2 separate regions of the Homo sapiens genome follow, and region 1 is linked to region 2. The links come from fine-mapping of genetic effects on gene expression. A gene starts in region 2. The other region holds a variant in brackets. All regions are shown on one strand. Distances are from middle to middle.

The links. PIP is the estimated chance that this variant, and not a neighbour inherited with it, causes the effect.
Region 1: its variant is fine-mapped to the expression of AP2A2 in blood mononuclear cells (TOPMed, PIP 0.94).

Annotation. Positions count from the first base shown.
Region 1 is chr11:992,330-1,002,107 of GRCh38, forward strand. AP2A2 (adaptor related protein complex 2 subunit alpha 2) reads left to right here. Exons shown (of 22, transcript NM_012305.4): 11 at 174-356; 12 at 955-1,052; 13 at 1,425-1,656; 14 at 1,743-1,916; 15 at 8,103-8,269. Among named protein-coding and RNA genes, the nearest start is that of MUC6, 39 kb to the right of the region's middle. RefSeq lists an enhancer at 1,955-2,479. The variant C/G (reference allele first, on the strand shown) is at 5,011.
Region 2 is chr11:921,584-931,361 of GRCh38, forward strand. It overlaps AP2A2 (adaptor related protein complex 2 subunit alpha 2), which reads left to right and starts at 4,287. Exons shown (of 22, transcript NM_012305.4): 1 at 4,287-4,505. The coding sequence starts at 4,439. RefSeq lists a silencer at 4,099-4,638.

The sequences.
Region 1 (9,778 bases), 71 kb after region 2:
TTTCTGGGCTCGTGGGCTTTTTTGAGAATCGAGTTCAAGCTTCCTCCATGTCCCAAACTTTTGTAGACACATTGAGGTGCTTCTGAAACTCTCACTTTGACTTTGGACGACAGTTTGGTCTTGGGATTGCCATGGCCTGCAGGTGCCGGCCCTCAGCAGCCTGTCCCCCACAGGTGCTGAAGGTCGCCATCCTGGCTGAGAAGTACGCGGTGGACTACACCTGGTATGTGGATACCATCTTGAACTTGATCCGAATTGCTGGTGATTACGTGAGTGAAGAGGTGTGGTACCGAGTCATTCAGATCGTCATCAACCGGGACGACGTGCAGGGCTACGCGGCCAAGACTGTGTTCGAGGTATGGCCCGCAGGATGGCAGGAAGGATGGGGTGGAGGGCAGTTGCAGAAGGTGAGCAGTGAGTGGTTCCAGCCTGCCTGCGTGGAGGTGCCGAGGGCCGTTGCTGACCCCTCTTGCCCCTCAGCTCTTCCCTGAGGCTCTAGCTCCTCCACTGTTGGTGCCCCTTGCTGAGTCCCAGTTTCTTCTCACCCTAACTCTCAAACTTCTGGCTCTCTGGGGGCCACCTGAGAAAGCCGGCCTCTGTGTGTGTGAGAGCATGCTGGGGCATGCCGTGGTGGGGCCTGCCCTGTCCGTCGGAGAGGGTTAGGCCACCGGCAAGGGGTGTGCCATGAGGACGCTGGCAGAACCTCCCCAGCCAGAGCCTGTTGTGGATGCTGCAGCTCCCTCCAGGGCAGGTCAGCGTGTGGCAGCCTTGGGTTCCTTGCTGCTGACACAGGTACTGAGGGTGCTGAGGAAGGCAGGGATGGGCACTTGGACTGGGGTCTCCAGGAAGCTGAGGGGCTGGTGCTGGTGTAGGGTGCACCGCGCCAGGACGTGCCCGCCTCGCCTTAACTCTGGCACCTGGCTGCCACCCCGGCTCATTGTTTGTGCTTCGCAGGCTCTTCAGGCTCCCGCGTGCCACGAGAACCTGGTCAAAGTGGGCGGCTACATCCTGGGGGAGTTTGGAAACTTGATAGCTGGAGACCCGAGATCCAGGTGAGAGGCCCTTTGCGAGTCGGGGCTGTGTGCGCTCCGGCGGGCCTCTCGGTGGTCGGTGGCAAGAGGCGAGGCACCAGCTGGCCCTGCCGTGAGGCCTCGCAGAGCCGCTTCTGCTCCCCATCGGCGTCTTTTTGTTTTCCTTCAGTTGATAGAAAAAGCAGGGATTCTAGTAGAAAATGGAGACGTGGGGTTGATGGCTGACTTAGTGAAAGGGGCGTCTTTGCGGTGGGATCTGGAGCTGGAAGAGGGTCCCGACCAGCGGCCTCTGGTGCAGGCCAGGGGGTCTCGCCGCCGTCCCCCCCCCGCGGGGGCGTGCTGCAGCCTGCGAGGGGACGACGGTGTCCCTGTGTTGTGCCTCCCCGTCCCCAGCCCGCTGATCCAGTTCCACCTGCTGCACTCCAAGTTCCACCTGTGCAGCGTCCCCACCCGCGCGCTGCTCCTGTCCACCTACATCAAGTTCGTGAACCTCTTCCCGGAGGTGAAGCCCACCATCCAGGACGTGCTGCGCAGCGACAGCCAGCTCAGGAACGCAGACGTGGAGCTGCAGCAGCGTGCTGTGGAGTACCTGCGGCTCAGCACCGTGGCCAGCACCGACATTCTGGTAGGAGGCCCCCGCCCTTCGGGCTGGCTTGGCTGAGGGTTGGAGGCCAGGAGCTCTGACCAGTCCCACCCTGTGTTCTTTCCAAGGCGACCGTGCTGGAGGAGATGCCCCCATTCCCGGAGCGGGAGTCCTCCATCTTGGCAAAGCTCAAGAAGAAGAAGGGCCCCAGCACGGTGACAGACCTGGAGGACACCAAGCGGGACAGGAGTGTGGACGTGAACGGGGGTCCTGAGCCTGCCCCAGCCAGTACCAGCGCCGTGGTGGGTCCCTCACCTACTGTGCACCCAGACCTGTCAGGGCCTCACCCCCAAGACTTGGGACCAGCAGAGCATTTGCCTGTCAGGGAGGAGCATGTACTGAGAACCCAGGCTCTGGCTGTGGCTCTGGACACCCCGCTGTCCTGTCCTGGGGGCCACTGTCCCTGCTGGACACGCTGCTGTCCTGTCCTGGGGGCCACTGTCCCTGCTGGACGCCACGCTGTCCTGTCCCGGGGGCCACTGTCCCTGCTGGACGCCCCGCTGTCTGTCCCGGGGGCCACTGTCCCTGCTGGACGCCCCCCTGGCCTGTCCCGGGGGCCACTGTCCCTGCTGGACGCCCCGTTGTCCTGTCCCGGGGGCCACTGTCCCTGCTGCACACCCTGCTGGCCTGTCCCGGGGGCCACTGTCCCTGCTGGATGCCCCCCTGGCCTGTCCCGGGGGCCACTGTCCCTGCTGGACGCCCCGTTGTCCTGTCCCGGGGGCCACTGTCCCTGCTGGACGCCCCCCTGGCCTGTCCCGGGGGCCACTGTCCCTGCTGCACACCCTGCTGGCCTGTCCCGGGGGCCACTGTCCCTGCTGGACGCCCCCCTGGCCTGTCCCGGGGGCCACTGTCCCTGCTGCACACCCTGCTGGCCTGTCCCGGGGGCCACTGTCCCTGCTGGACGCCCCCCTGGCCTGTCCTGGGGGCCACTGTCCCTGCTGCACACCCCGCTGGCTTGTCCCGGGGGCCACTGTCCCTGCTGGACGCCCCTCTGGCCTGTCCCGGGGGCCACTGTCCCTGCTGCACACCCCGCTGTCCTCTCCCGGGGGCCACTGTGCCTGCTGGGCAAGGCACTTCCTTCAGACCGTCGTCTTGTCCAGCTCAGCTCACACATCCTCTGTGGTGCCTTGTTTTAGGGGAAGTGGCCGTCCCCTCTCCTACAGGACTGCCTCACCCAGGCAGCTGTCCTCACATGCTTTGTTGATTTAGAGAGGACCTGTCCTGCCCTGCTCTTCGAGGTTTTATGTAGTGAGTTGGGTTAGGTCTGGTTTTCCTTGTATGTGTGATGCGATGAGAATAATCCTGTAACAGAATGTGTCCTGTGGTATTTGTCAGGTGAGAAGTGTCGTTTTGAGAGTTGCGTTTTTGCTTGGCTCTGCTTGCCAGCTGTTCCCCTCTGCACTGTCAGGGAGGGCTCCTGTCGGGGTCAGGCGGGCTTTCTGTTTGTCCAGTTAGAGGACCTGTCTCTCCAGGACGCAGGTCCAGTGGTGGCAACCAGTGCTGCTACCCAGTATCGGCAGGGCTTTGTGGGGTGAGCTCCTGTGGTGGTGCCTGCCCTGGCAGTGTGCTGGTTGGGAGGGTGCTCATGTCGGAGTCCTGGCACTCCTTGGCGGGGACCTGCTTATGTGCCCCGGCTGACCATGTGTCCTGCCCCTCTGGCCGACAGTGCAGGGCCTGCCATGGGGCTGGTATCCAGGCTGAGCCTGACATCTCAATGAGCAGTCTTCCCTCCCCCTCTTCCTCCCTCTCCCCTCCCTCCACCTAGTGTCCTCTGTGCAGCCCCTGTCCCCCCGTGCCCTCTCTCTGTGTTGTTTGTGGCACGCTGCTGTGCCCGCCATCTGGAGGCTTGAATTGCCTGTGAGCTCATCCTGGAGTGAATGAAATGAATGAAAGATGTGACTCTTTCTCCCAAGGTGGGCGTCTTCCCTTCACGCCTGAGCACCTTCATGCTTATGTTTCTCATGTGCTCTGTAGAGCTGGTGACCTGCTTTTGACCCTGTCTCCTCCCGTGGGACGTCACTAGCCAGGCGCCTAGTGCAGCAGGCCTCTGTCACTCCTCTAATCCATCTCTCCCTCTCCTTTGGACATCTTGACATAGGTTTCTGGAGGCAGAAACTTGCTTGTGGAGATTTGTCTGTGAGCTGCCGGAGCAGGGGCCTTCCCGTGGGTGCTGGGCCGGCAGCGGCTCCGCCCTGCAGAGAGGAGGACGCGGCCCCAGTTGGGTGAGGAGGCGAGGGCAGGATGACGTGATCCAGGGGAGGCTGGTGTGCAGGGATTCCTGGAGGCCGGCTTTCAGCAAGGGCACTGTGAAGTCTTCCACGGAAACCTGGGATTGCCTGTTGGAAGCTGGGAAGGCACCAGGTGCTCTCGCTCCCCTCCAGCTGCTTTGACGTTAAGAGGAACTCGCTGAGGGAGCATGGAAAGGGGCTGTAGGATTGTCTTCAGTCTCTCTTTGGTTCTTATTTGATGTTTCTTTTTAATGTGGGTCCTGAGAAGTGAGGTGTGCCCATACCCCAGGCCTTTGATCACACCCAGGTTTGTCCGGCTAGGCTCAGGGTGGACTTTGGAGGGCCTGGCCTTGACTGTGTGGCTTAGGGATCAGATGGAAGCTTCTGGACCCTGGGAGTGAGAGCAGTGTGCTGCCCTCTGAAAAGGAGGATGAGGGTCCAGTGAGGTTCAGCATTTCTGTAAGGTGCCTTCTTGGAGGGAGTTCCCCCTTCAGGGCTCATTCAGTGGATTTTCTGAGTGTGGCTTCACTCCTGATGGTCAGTGGTGCCTGGCGGGTGGGTTCCTTAGGGAGGTGTCTGTGGCCGAGGCACGCAGCTCTGTTCTGAGCTGAGAGCTGTGGTGTGTGGGCACCTCCGTCCTGACTGAGAGCTGTGGTGTGTGGGCGCCTCCGTCCTGACCGAGAGCTGTGGTGTGTGGGCCCCTCTGTTCTGACCGAGAGCTATGGTGTGTGGGTGTCATTGCTATCCTGTGCTTTCCAATCTGTTCCCATTGCTCACGGGAGCCCCAGTGAGAGGCCCCTCCCTATGGGGAGACACTCCTGGCGAAGTTTTCTTGCTCAGGGTCTTCTGTATGGGCCGTGAAGGGGCCTCAGGGTGGCATCAGCACATGTGCCTTTCCCACGAGAGACAGTGGCTTTATCTTGGTGTCACATTGGCCAAAATGTCTTTTATTTAACATCATAGATGAGGCCAGGACATTTTACTTCTTCCGAGCATCCTCTTTCTGCACACAGCTCCTTGGGGGAGGCTGTGGTGTGCGTGTCCCCGGGTGTGCTGGGGAGCACAGGGGTGTGGGGATCAGAGGCTGCCTGGCTTCACATGCAGGAGC[C/G]TGGGGCCCTTGTAGGCAAAACCTTCACCCCTCAAGTTGTCCTGCTATTGGAGGGAGGAGGTGAACTGGTGTGGCCCAGGAGCCAGGCCTGCTCCCTGAGGAGGGTCTCCCAGGCCTGAGAGGATAAGGAAGATGAAGAACCTGAAGTGGGTGTTAGGACCCTACTGTCCTGGGGCCTTGCATCTGGCCTCGCTGTTACAATCTGTGGTAACGTTTCAGGTACAAATGCCTTTACTAGGGCAAAGGGCTTTCCTACTTTAGAAAGCAGTTAAAAGCCATAGATGGCTGGGCATGGTGGCTCACACCTGTAATCCCAGCGCTTTGGGAGGCTGAGGTGGGCGGATCACTTGAGGTCAGGAGTTTGAGACCAGCCTGGCCAACATGGTGAAACCCCGTCTCTTCTAAAAATACAAAAATTAGCCAGGTGTGGTGGTGTGTGCCTGTAATCCCAGCTGCTCGGGAAGCTGAGGCAGGAGAATTGCTTGAACCCAGAAGGCGGAGGTTGCAGTGAGCTGAGATTGCACCACTGCACTCCAGCCTGGGTAACAGAGTGAGACTCGGTCTCAAAAAAATAAAATAAAATAAAATAAAAGCCATAGATGTATTTGAATCAGTGCAGGAACCAGGGTAACATCTGTGATGAGATGCAGAGGAGAAACTGTCTCCATTTGGGCTGCAGGTGCATGGCCATGGCCAAGGCCGATGGCTTCCCACGCAGCTCACAGCTTTGTCAGGCTGTGGAGGCCACAGTGTTGGCGGGCGCTGTCCCCGGCGTAGGGAGCAAAGCGCCGCCTTCAGATGGTCTCATCGAGACACGCCTTGGATATTTTTGGGACTCTTCTCTGCCAGCTCCTCTGTGACCTCCCACCCTTGGAGCACATGAGACCCGTGTCGTCTTCTCTTGCAGAGGTGCTCCGTCACAAGAGCAGAGCCTGGGAGCCTGCCCCGTTTCTGACTGCCCCCCAATCCCCATTCTGACTCTCACCCGCCCCCATTCTGACCCCCCGCCCCCATTCTGACCTGCACCTTTTTTGCATAACACACTTTGTGATGCCTCATTTATCTTTGAGTAAAATTCATATATCACAAACCCACACATGTAGTTTTTTTGAAAGTACAGTGTGACACCTTAACTTTGCATTAATGTAAAATGGCATTCAGGTGGAGTCTCAGATAATTACAAACTAATTTTTTACCTTCTTAGATGTCCAGTGGAACATTCTAAAGTTACTCAAGACGAATCTTCAAGTTAGGGTGTCTTGTGTCTCTGTTTTTTGCCTGTGAAATGCCAATATCCTTGTGATAGTCAGAGCCCTCCACATCTCCAGAACGCTCTTAGCTGGGTGGGGGGTTTCTCCACCAAGAGCCCCTGGTGTATAGTGTCAAAGTGTGAGTGTTGCCAGGCTGTAGTTCAGTGGTACGATCTTGGCTCACTGCAATCTCCGCCTCCTGGTTTCAGTTCTCCTGCCTCCACCTCCTGAGTAGCTGGGATTACAGGCGTGTGCCACCACACCCAGCTAATTTTTGTATTTTTAGTAGAGACGGGGTTTCACCATGTTGGCCAGGATGGTCTCAATCTTCTGACCTTGGGATCTGCCCCCCTCGGCCTCCCAAAGTGCTGGGATTACAGGTGTGAGCCACCGTGCCAGGCTGGGTGTCCTTTTTATAGGGAGCATCTGAGTCCCTCTGGTGCACAGGCTGCTGTGGGGCAGGACCCGTGGAGCCCAGAGCAGGTCTGAGCTCCCAAAGTCAGGCTGCTGGGGCATTGCTGGGGAGCCTGCTGCCCTGTTGGATGGGTGAGCATGCGATGGACTGAGCTGCTGCTTGTGCCCTGTTGTGAGAGTTTAATCATGAGATCATAGGCGCTCTTTCCTTGTGCCTTTGCCCCAGGATCAAAGAGCAATTACTGGGGCCGGGTGCGGTGGCTCATGGGAGGCCGAGGTGAACGTATCACCTGAGGTCAAGAGTTCGAGACCAACCTGGCCAACATGGTGAAACCCTGTCTCCACTGAAAATACAAAAATTAACTGGGCGTGATGGCGGCCACCTGTAATCCCAGCTACTTGGGAGGCTGAGGCAGGAGAATCGCTTGAGGTGGAGGTTGCAGTGAGCCCACACCAGTGCACTCCAGCCTGGGCAATAGAGTGAGACTGTCTCAAAAAAAACAAAAACAGAGACAGTCTCTTGCTATGTTGCCCAGGCTAGTTTTAAACTCCTGGACTCAAGCAGTCTTTCTGTCTCAACCTTCCAAAGTGCTGGGATTACAGGTGTGGGGCACCATGCCCAGCCAAAAAGCAATTATTTTTTAAAAGTATCCGTTCTGTAGACTTTTAATGATTAATAATGATTTAGTAATAATTTAATGATTAATAATGCACCCGAGTAAGTTATTTGCTTTTTCATCTTTGGAAGCTTACTTTCTTATTGGACAGTTGGCAGTAACATGCATGATCTTAGTTCTTTCTTTTTTTTTTTTTTTTTTGAGATGGAGTCTCGCTCTGTCGCCCAGGCTGGAGTGCCGTGGTGCGATCTCGGCTCACTGCAAGCTCCGCCTCCCGGGTTCACACCATTCTCCTGCCTCAGCCTCCCGAGTAGCTGGGACTACAGGCGCCCACCACCACGCCCGGCTAATTTTTTTTGTATTTTTTAGTAGAGATGGGGTTTCACCGTGTTAGCCAGGGTGGTCTCGATCTCCTGACCTCGTGATCCGCCCACCTCGGCCTCCCAAAGTGCTGGGATGACAGGTGTGAGCCACCGCGTCTGGCCTTTTTTTATGTCTTTCATGGCAAAATTTTTTTGAGAATTTTTTTCATTCAAATAGCATTTGTGAAAAAATGTAGGGTGCCTTAGTGAAATTATGACTGATGTTTTAAGTGCAGTTATCTTTAGGCTGGAGTCTGGGATATACTCAGGAAGTGGCTGTTAGCCCTCACTCTCTGGTCACTCACTGAGTTGTGTGCCACCTGCCCCAGCCACTGGGAGTGCATGGATGCCAAGGGGGTGCCATGGGGGAGGACGTGCAGGCGTGAGCTGCCTGGGGTTGGCCAGGCCAGGGAGGCTCTCTGCTGATGCTCTCCTTCCTTCTCTTCCAGTCTACGCCTTCTCCGTCGGCAGACCTGCTGGGTCTCGGGGCTGCCCCCCCTGCCCCCGCGGGCCCCCCACCCTCCTCCGGCGGCAGCGGGCTGCTCGTGGACGTGTTCTCAGACTCGGCCTCTGTGGTCGCGCCTCTCGCTCCTGGCTCCGAAGACAACTTTGCCAGGTAGTCAGGTTTCCTGAGTCCTGCAGACAGGCACGGGGCTGCCGTGCCCCCTGACTTCTGGTGTGGCCGCGGCCAGCTGGACAGAGGTGGGCAGCGGAGTTTACCTCCCAGATTACTGCCTGGGGGAGAGAGCGGGAGCTGCTGTGTTGTGGGTGGGTTTGCTGTGTCATTCCTCTCACAACCTTGATTTATATGGACTGCAGTGTTCATTACTCTCAGGAGGAAAAGGAGGACATGAAAGAAACACACTGTCTGGGTGGTGGTTGTGTCCTGTCTGCACGGTGATGTCCGATCATGTTTCAGCTGCTGTTTGAGTGTTGATAAACACTCTTTGTAGCTACACGTCTCCTCTCTTCGCCTCTTTCCTGTCTAGTTGGGCTGCTTTTCATTCTGACTTAAGCCGTCTTGTCTGTGTCTGTCCTGGAGGCCCGGTCTCTTGTCCTTGAGTTGCTCACTTGCTAAGTCCTTCTGTGAGGCCCACCCTGCTCACGCCTTCGGCCTCCACCCTGTGGTTCCCCCTGAGGGCAGCCTGTCTTTGCTGCTTGTCCTGCTCTAATTTCTGTCCGGTGCCTGGGCACCTCCCGGCTCCCTGTGTGCAGTGGTCTCTGCCAGTGTCTCCGTGGTCTTCAGATCGTCGGTGCTGACCACTTTCCCCCGCACGTGCTCTCCCCAGCCCTCTCTGCTGGGCTCATCAGCTGTGCATTCCGCTTACTGGCTGCTCTCAGCCATCTGCTTGTTTTCATGTCTGGCCGGAGGTCTGAGGTGCCCCCTTTCCTGGAGTTGACGCCTCTCCCCTGCTGCCCTGTGGGGTGGGAGCGCAGGTGCCGGTTTCTGTCCCAGATGGAGGTTAGAGAGCCTTTGAGGAATGGCCTTTTGGCCCCCCATTTTGAAGACTGTAATAGAGTTCTGGTGTTTTTCAGTTCTTTGTATTCATGTTGCACGTGAGTTCTGTTTCCTGTTACGTGTTGGGAAAGGACTTAGGAGAGGCAGGCCGGCGTGGTGGTGGGTGCAGGTCGCCGCTTGGGCTGAAAACAGTCTTACTGCTCTTAGAGTCGCTGTGTTTGAGATTGAGAATCCAGGTTGCAGGGCTCTGGTGGTGGCTGCTCCTCAGTGTCTTGGTGGCAGGAAGGGACCAGGGGCTGGGCAGTCCGTGGCAGCCGTGGCCCTTCCCTGCTGGGCGCTGCCTGCCCTGTCTCCATACGGCTGTGCTGGGAGCTGCACATGGCCCTTGTGCACGCCTCACATTGGGTGGCGCTGTCTGCAGCTGGCCAGGCCTCGGGGCTCTTGTGCATGCGGCCGTCTTGGCTTTGATCTGGCTACAGAGGGTCATCAGGTGTCTGCGTGTGTTTGGTGTAGGATGGAGGCACAGAGTGCCTCAGGGCGAGCCGGCTGTGGTGGCTGCTGGCACACGGCTCACAGGACAGGGCGGCTGCATTCTCATGGCCTTGCAGAGTGGTTTGCATTTTCCCCAAAGATTCCTCCAGGCCAGGTTGTAGTTGGGATGAACCA
Region 2 (9,778 bases):
ATCACCCTGCCACCTAGTGGGGTGTCTGGCCTCCTTGGCCTTAGTCACCCCGAGCTGCCCTTCTCCTTTGAGAGCAGGGGGCCTGCTGATGTGGCTGCACCCCCACAGCCTCAGAGGACGGCCCTGAGAGCCTGTGAAGGTGCTGGCCTTGTGCAAGTTACACATCTCCAAGCCTTTGGCAGGAAGGGTCTCCTTAGGAGAAGCTGGGCAGGTTCAGTCCCTGAGTCCTCTGAGCCCCTTTTTCTGCATTATGTCCAGGGATTTCTGTCATTGTAACCATGTTTTAGGGGCTGCCCTGCATGTAGCTTCCAGGAATTTGGCCCAGCAGCAGCCGGACGGACCCTGGGCTGCCAGGCTGGCTCAGTTGATCCAGACACCGTGGGTGCTGCAAAGGACCCAGCTGTTGTCCGGGGCCTGTGTCTCAAAAGCCATCCTACAAGTGTTCTGTGGGGTTTTGTTGACAGAAACTCAGCTTCCCGCTGTTCACAGGTGCCCAGTCATCCCCCTCTGTGCGATTGTGGGTGTGGATGTGTTGGGGCCTGACTCAGGATCAAGGGCTGAGCTGGGCGGGGACTCTTGGGAAGTGGGGCTTGGGGTCCCAGGTTATCGAATTTACCCCATGCCAGTTCTCTGGGCCCCGCACAGCACTGCAGCTCTCCCGCCAGACGTCTGGGGAGGCTGCACCTCCCACCCTGGTGGCTGTTTTGCTGCTGTCTGGGCCCAGCTGTGAATGGCTTTGTATTCCTCCGGCTTTGCAGTGGTGAGAAAGATGTGTGGTCATGGCAGCTCCCACCCGCCCCGTGATGAGCACTCAGGAGCCTGAGCTCATCTTCTCCTCCTTCAGGTGGGCTGGCTATACCTGACGCACCCACCCACCGCAGAGTTCCAGAATGCACCCCTCATGCCTCCCACCCTTCCATGGCAGGGGACAGTCAGTTCCCACAGCCTTCCCTGAGCATGTCACTCCTGGGGACTGCAGGTGCTCAGATGATCACGGGGGGGCCACAGGGTCTGAGCATGCCACCTCATTGTCCCTGAACTCTCATGAGTGCACAGGGACCAACTGTACATGGAACATGCTGCCAGACCCTCTTCTGGAAGGGTCATTGTCTGCAACTTACGCCAGAGATGATGAGAAGGAAACTGGGTCATTTGTAAAACAGACATGTTCAGGTCTGGGTAGGACCCAGGGCATGGCCAGCTAACGCTGCAGGGGCTATATGTTGGGGAACCCTGCTGCAGTGAGACAGCACCTCCACACCGCAGCTTGGGGCCCCAGCCTGTTTTCCCTTCATGATGCCCACGTCGGGCTTGTATCTGTGGACCCTGGCTTCCCCATGGCTGTGGATGAAGGAAAGCGACTCGTCCCCACCTCTGCCCTTGGGAATAGTACTGTGACCTTGCGTGGCTAAAGTATGACAAACGTTCAAATAATTTAAGAAATGGCTGGGCGCGGTGGCTCACGCCTGTAATCCCAGCACTTTGGGAGGCCGAGGAGGGCGGATCATGAGGTCAGGAGATTGAGACCATCCTGGCCAACATGGTGAAACTCCACCTCTGCTAAAAATACAAAAAATTAGCCGGGCGTGATGGTGCGTGCCTGTAATCCCAGCTACTGAGAAGGCTGAGGCAGGAGAATCGCTTGAATCCGGGAGGTGGAGGTTGCAGTGAGCCGAGATCATGCCATTGCACTCCAGCCTGGGCGACAGAGCAAGACTCCATCTCAAGGAAGAAAAAAAAAAAAAAAGAAAGATACTGAGGCTAGGCACAGTGGCTTGTAATCTCAGCACTTTGGGAAGCCAAGGCAGGAGGACTGCTTGAGCCCAGGAGTTCAAGACCAGCCTGGGCAACATAGTGAGACTCCATCTCCACAAAAATCAGAAACTTAGCCAGGTGTGGTGGCGTGCACCTGCAGTCTAAGCACTTTGGGAGCCAAGGCAGGAGGATGGTTTGAGCCCAGAAGGTCGAGGCTGTAGTGATTCATGATTGTACCACTGCACTCCAGCCTGGGAGTCAAAGGGAGAAACCCTGTCTCTAAAATTAAACATAAATAAATAAATAAATAGGCCAGGCATAGTGGCTTGCATCTGTAATCCCAGCACTTTGGGAGACACAGGCAGGCGGAATGCTGGGATTACAGGAGTTCAAGACCGGCCTGGGCACCGTGGTGAAATGCCATCACTACAAAAAATAAAATAAAGAAAAAGAAACTGTTTCCTAGGACTGCGCACTCCCGAAGCTGGCCTCTCCCGAGCCGAGGAGTGGCAGTGGTCAGAGAGGCCCACATGGACTCAGACCCAAGGCTGGGACTGGAGTGAATCATCTGGAGGGCTTGCGTGTCTGCAAGGGCAACGACGCTGGAAGGAGGTGGGAAGTCTTTTGCATGGCTGCATGTCGGGCCTTCTGGGACCCCTAAACACTCTTGTGTGGACGGGAGGATGTCTGTGGGAATCCCAGAGCTGGCACTGAGGAGGAGTCTTCCGAGTGGGCGGAGGGGGATGCCTGCCAGGCCCAAGCCCTCCTGTGGGCAGCCCCTGCAGCACCCCCATTGCCCTGCTCTGTGAGTGGCTGCTGGTGGGGGGGCACAGTGGTCTGCTTGTCTCGGTCTTCTGCACTGCCACTGCCAATGGGAGCTTGGATTAGGCATGCCAGCCTCCTGACGCCCAGAGCCCATGCTCTGCCCACGTGTGTTAGTGGACGGTCCTCGTGACTGCTGGGACTGTCCTGGAGAGCAGCCCAGGACCCCTCACATGGCACAAGATGCTCTTGTGTCCAGAATGGCCTTTATTTGTTGTCAGGGACAGGGGAGGGAAGCTTCTTGGTGGAAGGGAGAGGCTGAAGAATGAACAGCCCCGGGACCACTTTCTCTGCCAGGAGGTGGCACTGGGAGAGGATAGGGACTCCGGAGGGGTGTACCGTCCTCCAGGAAGCCCTCTGCTGGGTCGGCTCCGTGCCTCTGTCTTGGGAAGTGATGGACTTGGTTGCCTTATGCTGACTGGGGTCTGTCACAGATCTTGGTTTTCCCCAGGAGTTCTGGAGGCCCAGAGCCTGGGTGCGGCACCCGGTTCATTGGGGAGGGGCATGGGTCCTGTGCCCTCCTCCTGGCCGGGCTCCACCAGGGCTAAGCTCTCATCTGGGGCTGCGGAAGTGAGCCAGGGTGGGGACAAAGCCCTGGCTGGTGGGTCTGGGCCAGTTCCAGGTACAGGGTCCAGATCCCCCCACTGCAGCAGGAGGGAGCTTCCTGTTCAAAGCCATCTGGCTCTGGGAAGGACAGTGAGGCAGGGCCATCTGCTTCCCCACTCCCTGGGGTCTCTTCCTGGCCGGGACCTGGAGCTGTGCAGCCTGGCCCAGCAGGTCCTCCCTTGCGATGTGTCCACAGGGGTGGGCCTAGGCCTCCAGCTTGCAGTGGTGCAGAGGGCTGGGGAGCAGAGGGGGCCCTGGCAACAGTGGCCAAAAGTCCTGGCGCCGCCGAGGGACTAGATTCCGCAGGGGCTGCCGCCCCCGGCCGCTGTCACTGGGGTGGGGTGGGTGGTTGTTTCTCTGCAGGCCCAGGTGATGTGGAGGGGGCACCTGGGCTGCCACACAGACCCTGGGCTGGGTCGGGCACGGGGCCTGCCTCGCCCCCAGCTCAGGGACCGCAAGAGATGTGGCCCTGGCGGCTCAGGGCGGCAGGAGGGGCGGGCCAGCCCCACCGTCTCAGGATACCGTGCTAGGGGAGGGTTTCCTCGCCAAAGGCCGTCCAGCGGCTGTGACCCCTTCGCCTGGAGCCCCAGCTTCCTCCCGGCGCCGCCCTCCCGCCCCGGCCCCCGCGGAACAAACAAGGCCCTGGCCTCGGAGCTGCCCCGCCGCCCAGCGCTCACAGGTCGTTTATTCCAAGTAAGAAAACGGAGACTGCTCGGGGCAAGCTAGCGGGGCCGAGGCCCAGGACGAGGCCGTACGCGTGTGCCTGCGTGGCCGCCTCTTTTGCAGTGACCACCAACAACGACAGAGGCGGCCCGCTGCACACGCGGGTTCCCGCCCGGACCCACGCCCTTCCCGTGGGGGACGCGGGCGGCATCGCCAGCTTGGCGCGGCCCCGGGACGCGAACGCGTGGCTTCAGCGGCTCCGTCCATGGTGTCCGCCTGCAGGGGGCGCCCCCGCGCCTGCCTCGACCGGCTCGCCCCCGTGCCGCGGACGCGCGCGCGCTGCCTCACGCGACACCCGCCCCGGCCGCCGTCCGTCGTCGCTCGCGTGCGTGCGCGTGCGTGCTGGTGCGGGCGCCGTACGTGCGCGCGCGCGGCGGCCCAGAAAGCGGCGCTGGGACCCTGAGGCGGCCGTGGTTAGGCGGCTCCCCGGCGGCTCCTCCGCGGCGGTGACGGCGACCGCACTCCCCGCTTCCCGCTCCCCGCGCTCCTCCGCCCGGGTCCGCCAGCCGAGGCCGCTCCCGAGCGTCGGAAGATGCCGGCCGTGTCCAAGGGGGACGGGATGCGGGGCCTGGCGGTCTTCATCTCGGATATCCGCAACTGTGAGTGGCGGGGGCGGCGTGGGGCCGGGGCCGGGGCCGCCGGCGGAGACGGGGTCTGGGAGCGGAGGCCCGGGGCGGGGCCTCGAGGCGGGGGTGCAGGCTGGGATGCGGGCGGGGCCCGGGGCCTGAGGGTGCGGGCGGCGCTCGGGGTCTTGGGGTACCGGGTCTGGGGGTGGGGGCCAGGGTGCGGGGTGGGGGTCCAGGGTCTGGGGGTGCGGGCGGCGCTCAGAGTCTTGGGGTATCGGGTATGGGGGTGCGGGTCAGGATGCAGAGCGGGGCCCTGGGTCTGGGGGTGCGGGGTGGGGTGTCCAGGGTCTAGGGGTGCGGGGTCTAGGGGTTTAGGGCACGGCCCTTCATCCACATCTCCACTCCCGTTTGCTGGTCCGTGCGGGGGGCTGCGGCACCACCAAGGGGGTTCCGGGCCAAGACGCCCCTCCCCAGCATGATGTCACCTTGGTCTTTCTAGTACTGGAGCGTTTAACCCAGCGTTTTCCAAAACGGCGTGGATTTTAGCTTTGGGAGCAGAAATCTGGAAATCAGTGTCTTCCCAGGAAACAGCTTTGTGACCTGGGTTCTGGAGGCTTATTAACCCCTGATTAGATCTCACCTACGACGATTAAAATGACTCATTCCCGGAGGGAATCTGGACACGAGCAGCAGTCGGGGTGTGGGATGGCCTCGCTGCCTGCTGCTCCAATCACAGACCTCGTTCTCAGCCCCGTGCCTGTCCCCTCGGGGTGGGAAAAATCCACACCAAACCGTTAAACAAGCCAGGAAGGCTGGGCCTGTTAGAAGGATGTGCAGGGTGGCTGGGTGGGTGCACCGGTCCACCAATTAATTTGACTTTGGTGTGCAGAACCTCCTCTTGGCTTTCAGAGGCCATCTCCTTATTTAATTTGAGGGAGAAACAAAGCCAGTTTCCTGTCTGCTGCGTTGATTTTTTTCCTTGTTATCCAGCAAATAGTTGACTTCATGATTTTTGTTTTTCTTTTTTTTGAGACAGGGTCTTGCTCTGGCTCTCAGGCTGGAGCGCAGTAGTTCCATCACGGCGCACTCAACCTCCCACCTCAAGTGATCCTACCACCTCAGCCTCCGGAGTCACTGGGACTACAAGCGTGCACCACCACCATGCCTGGCTGATTTTCGTGTTTTTTGTAGAGATGGGGGGGTCTCGCCATGTTGCCTAGGCTGGTCTCGAAATCCTGAGCTCAAGTGATCCACCTGTCTTGGCCTCCCAAAGTCCTGGGGTTACTGGCGTGAGCCACGGCACCCTCATAATTTTTAATGTGTATTTTGAGGGACTGTTGTGATCTTCCCTTTGAATTCTCATCTCCTTAGACGGGATGGAGGATCAGGAGGATAGTGGTTCTCCCACACTCTGTGGAAGGGTAGAGGACCATCTAACCCTTCCTGTACTCTGTTAAAAAAAAAAAAAAAAAGCATAGAGCTGGGTGCGGTGGCTCAAACCTATAGTCCCAGCATTTTGGGAGGCTGAGGCAGGTGGATCTTTTGAGCCCAGAAGTTTGAGACCAGCCTGGGCAATGTGGTAACACCCTGTCTCTACAAAAAAATACGAAAATTAGCTGGGCGTATTGGTGTACACATCTATAGTCCCAGCTACTTGGGAGGCTGAGAGAGGAGGATCACTTGACCCCAGGAGGTTAAGGCTGCAGTGAGCTGAGATCGCGCCATACTCCAGCCTGGGTGACAGAGTGAGACCTTTCTCACAAAAAAAAAAAAAAAAAAAAAAAAGGCTTAGAAACACCCTCAGATCAGCACTTTTACGAGTAGCATTTTTTCTCTTTGTTTGTTACATAATGAGACCAACATGCATTTTGTAAAACTAAGTGTGTGTATTATTTCTTAAGGGGACCTCTGGGACAAAGACTGAGTACCCTTAAATGCGCTATGATGTCTGTCCTTCCATTTTTGAAGAAAATTGCGTTAGGCAGGACAATGAGATTGAAAGCCATTTCCTCAGACAGCAAGTCACCCACTTGTCAGATATATTGTCTGTGCCAGGGCCTGCGTTTGACAGGATGGCGCCTACCACAGTGAGTGCGGTATAGCCGTCCTCCCTTATTTGTGGTTTCACCTTCTGAGGTTTCAGTTACCTCTGGTGATCTGAAAATAGGTGAGCATAGTACAATAAGATATTTAAAGAGACCACATTCATATAACTTTTATTACAGTATATCATTACAGTTCTTTTTTATTATTGGCTTCTGTTAATCTCTTACTGTGCCTAATCTGTAAGTTAGACTTTTTCATAGGTATGTGTGGGAAAAAAGCAGCTTGTATAGGATTTAGTATCATCTGAAGTTTCAGGCACCCACTGAGTGCCTTGGAACGTATACCTGTGGATATGGGGAAACTGCTGTACTCTATAAAATACTTGACTATATAGACCAGACTTTCTCCAACTCAGCAGAGCTGACATTTGGGGCTGGATCACACTTTATTGTGGGGAACTGTTCTGTGCCTTTTAGGATGTTTATAGCAGCACCAGTTGCCTTAGTTGTGATAAGGAACAATGTCTCCAGGCATTGACAAATGTGCCCTTAGGGCAAAGTTGTCCGCCGTCGAGAACCACTAGTGTATCCCATTGAATAACACAGCCCCTCCCCTGAAGGAGCTCGTAGAAGAAGGGGTGCTTAGTCCTAGCTGGGGGAGCCAGGTCTCTTTAATACGGCCCCTTTCTCGGAATCCTCTTTCCCTCATTGCTGTTGGATGGCCTCTCATCAGCTGCAGCGCCCACCATTCTCCTCCTGGGCAGTGTCTTCAGCTTGTGGTGCTGCTTTTCACCTGAGTGGCCCCATCTCCCCCACTGCCCTCTAGGGTGGCCTCTACAAGGTGCGCACCCTATCTTGCTCATCACATTTTTCCTGCTGTTCTCCTCATGGCGAGCGTCTGGCATGCGAGGTGCATGCCAGAGAAGACCTCACAAGGAAGGTGATTCTTGGGCAATTCAGGCAGAAGACCAAGAAGGTATTAGAGGAACAGCAAATAATTAATGTATATACGTATTGAGTTAATGAATGTTGGCTGGTGCCTGGAGACGGGATTGGAGAGCCAGCCAGGGTTTGAGCTGATCTGAACTTGACCTCCATGTCACAGGCAGAGGGGTCCCCGCTTCCCCTTTCCCTGGCCAGCTCTGATTTTGTGTGCTGTTTTCCTGTCATGAGAGTGAATGATAGGAGTAGTCGGGCCCTGTGGAAAGAGGACTCTGAGCCAACAGCCAAGGCTCTTGACCCTGACTCTGCCTCTTAGCAGCTGCATGAGTGGAGGCCACTGGCCATGGAGCCTCAGTTTCCACAGCGGACAGTTGAAGGGCTGGATTTTCAGCTGAAATATCATTAAAGCTGCGTGAGTGGAGGCCACTAGCCACGGAGCCTCAGTTTCCTCAGCTGACGCTTGAAGGGGCGGATTTTGAGCTGAAATATCGTTAAAGCCTGTTTCAGCTCCAAATTTGCGTCTTTCTGACCAGTTTCTTAAGTTTTCCTCCTTTAGCCTGGGCAATATAGTGAGACCCCTGTCTTTTCAAAAGAGAAAAAAGAATTAGCCAGGCGTGGTGGCACGCACCTGTGGTCCCAGTTACTCAGTGGGCTGAGGTGAGAGCATTGTCTGAGCCCTGGAGGTTGAGGCTGCCATGAACTCGGATTGCGCCACTGCACTCCAGCCTGGGCAGCCTGAGGAGCAGATTGAGACCCTGCCTCAAAAAAAAAGTTTTTCCCCTCCAAGACCTGGTGCCAGCCGGGTGCGGTGGCTCACGCTTGTAATCCCAGCACTTTGGGAGGCTGAGGTGGGCGGATCACCTGAGGTCAGGAGTTCAAGACCAGCCTAGCCAACATAGGGAAACACTGTTTCCACAAAAATACAAACATTAGCTGGGCGTGGTGGCATGCACCTGTAGTCCCAGCTACTCCGGGGGCTGAGGCGGAAGAATCGCTTGAACCCAGGAGGCGGAGCTTGCAGTGAGCTGAGATTGTGCCATTGCACTCCAGCCTGGGTGACAGAGCGAGACTCTGTCTCAAAAAAAAAAAAAAAAAAAAAAAGCCCTGTGCCAAGTATCTGAGGTAGCGGACAGGGAGCATGTGGACACTAGGATGCTCTGTTTTCACTTCAAGTAACCCACTCCCAGCAGACTGGCTTGGGGCATTACTCCTCTTAGCATAGGCAGCAATGAATATGCTCCAGGATTTGAAAAGGTGCCTCGTGTCAAGCTCTGCCCCTCAAAGTTGTAGCTTTTGTGGCTCAGGTAGTGAACTAACTTAATGTCTCCTAAAATTAACTTCATCCTTTCTGATTGACGTCAACCCAGCGGCCACTGCATTTGGTCAGCATGCATTCAGTGTGTGAGAGTTAATAAACTGTTTCTTTTTTTTTAAATTGGCATTAAAAAAATTCTAGTCCTTTTATTTAGTCCCAGTTTTAGAATTTTTTTTTTTTTGAGACGGAGTTGCGCTCTGTCGCCCAGGCTGGAGTGCAGTGGCGCGATCTCGGCTCACTGCAAGCTCCGCCTCCCGGGTTCACACCATTCTGCTGCCTCAGCCTCCCGAGTAGCTGGGACTACAGGTGCACGCCACCACGCCCGGCTAATTTTTTGTATTTTTAGTAGAGACGGGGTTTCACCGTGTTAGCCAGGATGGTCTCGGTCTCCTGACCTCGTGATCCACCGGCCTCGGCCTCCCAAAGTGCTGGGATTACAGGCGTGAGCCACTGTGCCTGGTGCCCTACCTTTCTTAATGTGGACATCTTGCATAACTACAGGACATATTCAACACCAGGAAACAGACACTGGTACACACCACCAGGCATATTCAGATTTCGTTAGATCGACATGCACGTGTGTGTGTGTGGTTCTATGCAGTTTAGCACCTGTAGCTTTGTGTAACCGGTTCCCTACCTCAGTCAAGATACAGAACTATACCATCATCACAAAGCTACCCCTTATAGCCATACTCCTGAAACTAATCTGTTCTCCATCTCTGTAATTTTGTGGGCTCAAGGATGTCATATAAAGGGAATCACATCATATGTGATCTTTTGAGATTGCTTTTTTCCCCCTCAGTACAGTCCCATCGAGGTCCATTCAGGCTGGTGCATTGATTGACATTGTATTTGAGCAAAAGATACCGAGAAAACAAAATAACTGCTGAAATTGGGGAAACAAGACCATAATTATTTGCTATTTATTCAGTTATTTTGGAACTTTCGTTTGTTTTTACACAAATGACATATCTGCAGAGGAGAGTTGTATCTAACTTAGTGAA